Regions from separate parts of the Homo sapiens genome. Here region 2 is linked to region 1. The links come from fine-mapping of genetic effects on gene expression. A gene starts in region 1. The other region holds a variant in brackets. All regions are shown on one strand. Distances are between the middles of the regions. Region 1 holds the start of CASK (calcium/calmodulin dependent serine protein kinase). Region 2 holds the start of LOC105373188 (a long non-coding RNA gene).

The links. PIP is the estimated chance that this variant, and not a neighbour inherited with it, causes the effect.
Region 2: its variant is the best candidate, but not a certain one, in a credible set for the expression of CASK in whole blood (TOPMed, PIP 0.63).

Annotation. Positions count from the first base shown.
Region 1 is chrX:41,921,764-41,926,151 of GRCh38, forward strand. CASK (calcium/calmodulin dependent serine protein kinase) reads right to left here and starts at 1,791. Exons shown (of 27, transcript NM_001367721.1): 1 at 1,167-1,791. The coding sequence starts at 1,225. RefSeq lists silencers at 1,246-1,295, 1,566-2,145.
Region 2 is chrX:42,918,198-42,922,585 of GRCh38, forward strand. It overlaps LOC105373188 (a long non-coding RNA gene), which reads left to right and starts at 2,182. Exons shown (of 5, transcript XR_949037.3): 1 at 2,182-2,389. RefSeq lists an enhancer at 3,291-4,229. The variant T/G (reference allele first, on the strand shown) is at 2,528.

The DNA of each region.
Region 1 (4,388 bases):
AATTGAGTACTGCAGACAACTTAAAAGAGATAGGGCCAACTGCTTTAAGGTCTTGGTTTCATTTCCCAACTGTGGACCTTAAAATAGACAATAAAGCACCGCTTCCAAAAAAAAAAAAAAAAAAAAAAAGAGGTAAGATATTTCAATGTTAGCTCTAGCGATCCTTATTAAGCAAAAATTTGCTCTTAAATCTTATCTCCTCAACTTCTAAAGCCGCAGAATACACGCTGTGTTAGGAAATCAACTTCAGATTGCCAGCATTTCCTTCACAAGCAAATTAGCAGGATTGTGCACTTGGAGTACTGTTTGACAAGAATGAAAAGGAAACTATTCAAAATAGATTTAAGGAATGGACAATTAGATGAGGAACTGCAGATTTAATTCTCAATCAGCACTGTGATTAATCTGATTCCCTGCTTTTCCCCAGCGTAATTATACAACACAGATGAAAGGATGAGCATTTGGACTGTCAGTTCTATATTCTAGACCAGCCCGGTGACTCAAAGCAGACGGCTCTACCACGCTAACCACCATCCCAACAACAGTCGAGGGGAGTCTCGAGCACTGATTGAACAGTCATTGCATAACAAGGCATTAAAAATTCGAATGCCCCCAACTCTTTCCACGTTCGTGTACACCAGGAGGGAATTTGCTGAAACTGAAAGCACCCCGTCTTAAATGACCCCCTCCAATCCGAGCATGGGGTGTACACAAAGGCATCTGTCTAATATCCCGCACAATAGACACACACCCCACAATTAAAACCCTGGACTCTCTCACCACACAAGCAAAGGAAATGCAAGCTGCTCTGTTTCAAAAATGGTCTATGGTACATGCAAGGTAACAATAACCCCAACTGAAGCAACTATAAAATCGGCTGTGCCACGTCCCTGTGCAACCGTCAGATAAAATGCAGGCAGCCGGCCCCACGCCTTACGGGGTGGCCAACCTCGGCTCGGTGGCCTCAATGGACCGCTGAGAACCCCCAGGCCCCCGCCTGGCAGGAGCTCCAGGTACACGTCTATAAATACTCCAGGATGAGAAGGACGAGAGGGGAAGAGGGGAAGGAGGGAGGGCAGGGGGCAGGCCCCGAGCGGGTGCGGGAAGACCGGGGCATCACTGAAATGCATTTTTCCACACTCCCGCTCCCTCGCGTGGAGACTCACTTTCCGATCACCTCGCACAGCTCGTACACATCCTCGAACAGCACGTCGTCGTCGGCCATGGTCCGGAGGGGATAGCGGCCGCAGCGTGGAGGGCTTCGAAAACGGGGGTGGGGGCGCCCAAGAGCTCAGTGCCCAGCCCCGGGATCGCCTCCTCCCCTCAGGACCCGCGAGCCCTCGGTGCCGAGGACGCTCGAGTGGGGCCGCGAGGCCCAGAGACTGCGGCGCCTTCCTCTGCAGGCGACCGCCCCGGCGCGGGCGGCGGGGCCGGGGCGCGGGAGCGAGGGCGGCCCGGGCCCGGCGCCGCCCGCCCGCCCGCTGCTTCTCGCGCTGCTCGGGCCGCGCTGCCCGGCGTGCGGATCCTCGGGGACCGCGCGGCGTCGCGCTCTCCGCTCGTCAGCCCGCGCGGGCCGCGAGGCCGCGACCGCTCCCTCTGTCCGAGGCCGGCTCCGTCGCGTCGCGGAGCAGCTCGGGCTACAGAGGGGGCCGCGGCAGGACCATGGAGCGAGGATCGCCGCGGAGGGAGGTGGCGGCGGCGGCGGATCGGCGCTGGGGACCAGGAGGCGGCGGCAGAGACGCTCCCTCCTCTTTCTCCTCCTCCCGCAGCCGCCACCGCCCGCCCGGGAGTGGGAGGGGGCTTCGCGGGACCGGCGCTCTGTGCGGGCGGGAGCCGCGGCCGCCGCCTTCTGCTCCGCCCCTACGCCTCAGCAGCCGACCGGCTCGCCAGCCCCGCTCACCCGCCTCGCGCAGACACGCCCTCCTCCCCCGTCGGCGGCGCGGCTTCCAGAACCACAGGCTCCGCCCACTCCAACCGGTCGGGAGGCGGTGGCCCAGGGAAAGGGGAGCGGGCCGAGCGGCGCATGCGCGGGGCGCCGGCCGCGTCACGGCGAACGGGCGGGCACCGGGATTCTAGAGGGCGCGGGGGGTTGAGTGGGGCGCGCCGGCTGCAGCTGCCGAGGCGGGGCTGGTTGGGGTCGTCGCCTCCGCGCCTAGCCGCGACCAAGCCGCGAAAGGGGCTGGAGACAAAAGGTCCACGGCTGCACGCTCGTTGTCCGGCAAGAGGCACGAAACTCTGGCCGCTCCCCTTTCCTTCTTTTGTAATCGCAGGGAGCCTTTCCCAGTTTTTTGCTGGGAAAAGAGGCAGGGAAAGGGTGCTAATGAATGAGAAAGCTAAAAGAGAGGTGGAGAGAGGTTGTCACTGAATCCGTGCTTGGCAGCGGATGCTTTTAGTGCTACCCTGTCATTCCTTAATGAAGATGAGGGCTGGGGGTAAGGGGAGGTCGTCCAAGAAAAGGACTAAACAAAAACTGCCTAGGAAGGTGTGCGACAGCAAACGGTCATCTATAGAGACAGCTTCTCCCACGTTCTGCCCCAAACTCAACAAATATCTATCCAGCGCCTACCCTCACTAGAGACCAACCTAGAGAGAAGCTAGGAAGGCAGGGACAAACCGTGACTTTAAGCTCATTTGTATATTGTCCTCAAACTCCCAGGACCTACTCTGCTCTCTATACTCCCTATAAATGTTAGACTTGTCAGGAACAGAATGCAACTAGAGGGAGTGCAGGCACAGGAGCAGCCAGGGAGTGAGGTTCTGGGTGTTGCCGCTGTGCTAGGTTGCATTCAATATGAAGATTTCTGTTCAACTGAGCATGTGCGGAATGAGCCAGCGCCATCAGACAGGTATATGCCTCAGTTGAAGACCAATAGTGTCTTTGTTCCTCCGCACAGCAAAAGTGCCCAATTAGTTCATAAGTCAGTTTCCAGAAATCGTCTGGTAAATTTCTCAGTGCAGTATTTTTTTTAAAAAAAGTATTTATTAATACCAAAGTGGAGGGGGTGATGTGGAGACTCACAGCCTATTTTCTCTTCAGAAACGTTTCGTGCAAACCCTTGACCACTCCCTCAAAAGGCTGAGAGATTTGCCTGCTAAGGATTTGGGTACTAAACCTTTTTTTTTTTTTTAAATGCAGATCAGAGGACAAGTGTAATTGCACACGGTTTTCCTCCTTTCTCAAAGAGCTTGTGCATTCTCTAGAGACGGGGGCTTCAGAACTTGAGAAACATTGCCTCCTTTAAGGGTCCAAGAGTTACTCACCACAAGTTGGCATGTCCAGCTCATGTCTAATGAATAAGGCGTCACTCCATTCTGCCCTGAAGTGCACAGGGACCCTCTCAAGTCACCTTGTCAGCTTCACTTCTTTTCCCCAGCCCAAGACTGAGCTATACCAAGCCTTGTCGACTTCATTTTGGGGTTTGTTGTCTTCTACAGGGACCTATGCTCAGAGGTAGAAAAGGACAATCATAAAGTAAAACAGAAAAGAAAGTGCAGGTGAAAAAAAGAGAGACAGACGATTGCAAAAATAAGTAAGTGCTCTGCTCATAGGATCACAGTTGGTTTGGATCTGGAAAGAGACTCCCTCACTTACAGATGGAAGAATGTGGTGGTTGCTCTCCCAAAAGCCATCCCACCCCTCTCCCCCACCATGGGGTAGCAGCTCTGGACTTGAGGTGAGATTGTAACCATCTTTACTGGAGAGGTGGGCTCTGATTAATTAAACTAACACATGCAGCCCCCTTGCCACAGCGATAAGCCTAATTTAATCAGCTCTTGGCACTCCCTGGTCACAAGCTTTGAGTGGTTTGAGGTCTGCCAATCAGCACAAAGCTGAGGACTTTTTCTCCTGATCTGTACTTAGATCTCCCAGTTCCCAGTGTAATATTTAGTCATATAGAAATTCTCTGCAATACACATCCCTCAGAAGTTGTACCATGTATGATGGTTAGAAGTAGATCCTCTCTGCTTCGGGGACTAAAATAAGCAAACCTTTTAAATTAATTTTTCTCTGGGTGTCTTCCAAAAATCCAATACTGTTCCAACAAATAAGCCCATGTATTAGTGAGTCAGGTGTCAATAATTTGGTTCTGTTTTCGTTTCCACAAAGAAAATGTTAAAGTAAGTGCATCTATTAGATTGTGTTCAGATGTTAGCAACTGAATATTCAACTAACAGTGGTTTAAACAAATGCAAGGGGGCGGGGTGCTCTTTTCCATGTAGCAAGGAGATGTGTGGTTATTAACATTGATCAGCTATTCAAGTGCGTCATCAGTGACCTAGGTTTATTCGTTCCACTCTGCCATTCTTGTAATGTTAGCATCTCATCCTCAGGCTTGTTGCCTCATCATTATGAGATGGCTGCTGCAATTTCAGACATTAAAGGGAGG
Region 2 (4,388 bases), 1.0 Mb after region 1:
AATTCCAGGATTGACAATTACCTTCTAGACATCCTTACCTGGATACTTCAGCAGCATCTCAAACACAACTAGTCCACCATTAAAATTATTGTCTTTCTCCAAAAATCTATTCCTCAGTGGACTTTTACAACTGCATTCATTCATTTATTTATTGACTCTTTCATTAATGTATTTATTCACAAACTAATATGTTTATGAGTGCCTACATGCTGATACCACTGAGACTCTTAGAATGCAAGTGTGAACAAAATATAAAGTTTCAGCCCCAGTGGGGATGATATTCTAGGGAAGAGATAGACAAAACCAGGAAAAAAGCAAACAAACAAATAAAATAGTTCCTGCTAGTGAAAGTTTTATGAATACTGTCAAGCAAGGTAATGGAATAGAAAGTAACGTGATGTAGGACAGGTGGGTGGTGGCTCTTTTAAATAGGATGTTCAGAGAATGTCTGTCTGAGAAGGTGATATTTGAACAGAGATCTAATTGAAGAGAAGAAGTAAGAATGAGAGTATATAGAGGACTAGCATTCCAGAAAGAAAGTACAACAAATAGAAAGGCCCTGAGACAAGAATGAATTTGAATTGTTCATGTTCAACTGATTGCAAGAAGATGGGAGTAGACTGGGCAAAGTGGGGAGGGGTAAAAAATGGGGTCAGAAAGATAGGCAGACTTTTTTGGGTCACGGTCATAATTTCGATTGTTATCTAAATGTGATAGGAAACCACTAGACAATTTTGAACAGGGGAGTGAAGTAAACTGATTTATAGTTTTTTTAAAAAAAATCACCGCAGCTTCTTTATAAAGAACAAAATGAAGACAGAAAGAAAAAGCTGTGATAATGGGGGTGATCTTCTAAAGAGGGGATAATTTCCAGAGCAAAAATATCAGGTGGTACAGAGGAGGAGGTTTACAGTGTAAGTTTAGTCATTATTATTATTCCTTACTTTTTACAGGTGGCATAGAGAGAATATCAGTTCTGGTAGAAGAGGTTGTAGATTTGATGACAGTAAAATAGAGTATGAATATGATGAAGGATTGGAAAAGAGAAAAGAAGACAGGAAATAGACTTTTCAACAAGTAGCACAGCAACTTTACCAGCGAGAGAAGTCACATTTGCTAGGCAACAGTGATGAAGGCCCACTTAGACAGTGGTTAGGAATTCTGATAGGATTTAAGAATAGTTGAAATGAGGGTAATAGAATTATGAGCTAGAAACATAGATGACTGTGGTCATGATGTTTGAGTTCAGATTAAGGATATTTTCCAATATGAATGAGGCTGAGTAACTAGGAGTGTAGTATACAATGACTGCTAAAATAATAAACTAGGAATTGTGATGTCTGGAGCAATGCAATTCAAAGACCTGTGGCTTTTGGTGGAGAATGAAGGTAAAATGATCTGGAAGTTGCAAGGACACCTACCTTACCTTGAGGTCCTATAAGTAGCATATAAGAGGGATGCAGAAAAAAACCATTATTGTCCTTAGGAAACAGCCAGATTATAATTAAAACAAGAAGGTGAAGGGAACATTAAGAGATAAAGTAAAGGAAACAGGGGATTGTGCTGATGGCAGGCCTTTGAATTTCAGAGGATGTGGAACTGAGGATCAGGGAAATGTGAGAGATGATATCAGACTTGCACCTGCATGGAGGTGGATGGAGAGAAAGTCTAGATGATGATGGATGACCTGGGAGATTTGGACTTCTGGTAGTAACTGATGAAAACACACATGGGAGGGAGGTTGATGGAATAGGGAGGAAAAAGAATTAGTCTTAATATGGTCTCTTAGAAGAAGATGAGGCATCAGTTCTATTGAGAGTGACAGTTGATATCAATGGCCTTCACAATGTTGAGTTGTGTTGTAAATATTGTCTTTCCTGGAGCACTCTGAGCCCCGTGGGCCTATTTTATAGTGGAGGAGGAGTCCACTAGAAACAGGTGCTTGTTAAGCTTGTTAACCTGTCTTGAATCTGGTTGAGAGTGATAGTGTTCTGGCCAAGGGATAAAGCTGATCTTACTAGGGCTTCTTGCCCGGATTTGCTTTTTGAGTCCTAGGCCTCCATATCCAACTCTCTGCTCAACTTCTTCATTTCAATGGCTCAAAGGTATCTCAAATTCAACAAGTTCAACACAGCACTGATAATCTCCAAACTCTATACCCCAAATTTAATCCTCTTTCATTTGTCTCCTCATGTATGGGACTATACAAATCAAAATTGAAGAGTCATCCTTGACACTCCTTTCTCCTTAACCACCGTGTCATATCTACTCTGGAGGAAAGTGGAGCAAGATGGCTGAAGAGAAACCCTACTGATCATCCTCCCCACAGGAACACCAACTTGAACAACTATGCACACAAAAAAGCACCTTCATAAGAACCAAAAATCAGGTGAGTGATCACAGTACCTGGTTTTAACTTCCTATCACTGAAAGTCACTGAAGAGGGTAAGAAAGGCAGTCTTGAATTGCCAACGCCAACCCTCCCCCATACCCTGGCAGTAGCTGTGTGGCATGAAGAGAAAATCTG[T/G]GTACTGGGGGGAGGGAGAGCACAGTGATCGTGGGACTTTTCATTGGAACTCAGTGCTGCCCTGTCACAGTGGAAAGCAATCTGGGAAAAACTCATCCAGTGCTCATAGAGGGCATGTTTAGACAAGCCCTAGCCAGAGAGGAATTGCCCATCCCAGCAGTTGGAACCTGAGTTCTGGCAAGCCTTGCTGCTCCAGGTTAAAGTGCTCTGAGGTTCTAAATAAACTTGAAATGCAGTCTAAACCACAAGAGTTGCAATTTCTATACAAATGCTGGTGTTATGCTGGGCTCAGAGCCAGTGGACTTGTGGGGCACACCACCCAGTGAGACACCAACCGGGGTGGCCAGGGGAGTGCTTGAGCTACCCCTCCCCCAACCCCAGGCAGTGCGGCTCACAGCTCTGGGAGAGACTCCTTCCCTCCATTTGAAGAGAGGAGAGGAAAGAGTAGAGGGGACTTATTCTTGCAACTTGGATACCAGATCAGCCACAGTAGGATAGGGCACCAGGCAGAGTCCCAAGACCCCCATTTCAGGCCCTGGCACCCTGAAGACATTTCTAGATGCACTGTGGGCCAGAAGGGAACCTGCTGCCTTGAAGGGAAGGGCTCAGTCCTGAAAGAATTAATTGTTTGCTGACTGAAGAGCCCTTGGGCCCTGAATAATCAGCAGCAGTGGCACCCAGGGAATACTCGCTGTGGACCTTGGGTGAGACTCAGAGATGTGTTGGCTTTAAGTGTGACCCAGCACATTTCTAGTTGTGGTGGCAATGGAGAGGGACTCCTTCTGCTTGAGAAAAGGAGATAGAAGAGTAAGGGGATTTTGTCTTGTAGCTTAGGTACCAGCTCAGCCACAGTGGGGTAGAGCAACAAGCAGCCTCCTGGGGCCCCTGATTCCAGGCCTTGGCTCTTGTATAGCATCTGAACCTGCCCTTGGCCAGAGGGGAGCCCACTGCTCTGAAAGTAGAGTCCCAGACCAGGCAGCAGTCAGCACAAGCTGACTGAAGAGCCCTTGTGCCTTGAATGAACATCAGCAGTAGCAGACAGTGTACAATCTGGGCCTGAGGTAACCGTGGCCATAGGGAGAAATTCCTCTATTTGTGGAAGGGAAGGGAAGAGTGGGAAGGATTTTGTCTTGTGGCTTGGGTGCCAGCTCAGATACAGTAGAACAGAGCACCAGGTAGATTCCTAACGTTTCCAACCCCAGGCCCTGGCTCCTTGGTGGCATCTCTGGATCCAACTGAGACTGTGAGGAACTCACCACCCTGAAGAGAAGGACACAAGCTTGGACAGCTTTTCCACCTGTTGATTATAGGGCCCTAGGGCCTTCAGTGAACATTGGCAATAGCCAGGCAGTGGTTACCATGGGCCTTGGGTGAGACCCAGTGCTGTGCTGGCTTCAGGACTCACCCAGCACAGTCCCACTGGTGGTGGCCACAGGGGTCCTTGTGTCACCCCTCCCCCAGCTCCAGGCAACTCATCATGGAGAGAGAGAGATTTGGGAGAAAGTAAGGGAAGAGAAAAAGTAAGGGAAGACAACGAGAATCTCTCCATGGTGAAACAGAGAATCCTTCCAGATCTTATTCAAGACCACCAAGGCAGTATCTCTACCAGTCTGCAAGAGCCACAGCGTTACTGGACTTGGGATGCCCCCTAATGCAGATATGGCTACAGCAACCAGTAAGTTAGATCACAACACCTAAGTCCCTTCGAATACCTGGAAAACCTTCCCAAGAAGGATGGGTAAAAGCAAGTCCCGACTGCAAAGACTAAAATAAATATCTCACTCTTCAATGCTGAGACACCAATGAACATACACAAGCATCAAGACCATCCGGGAAACATGACCGAAAAAATAAACTATAT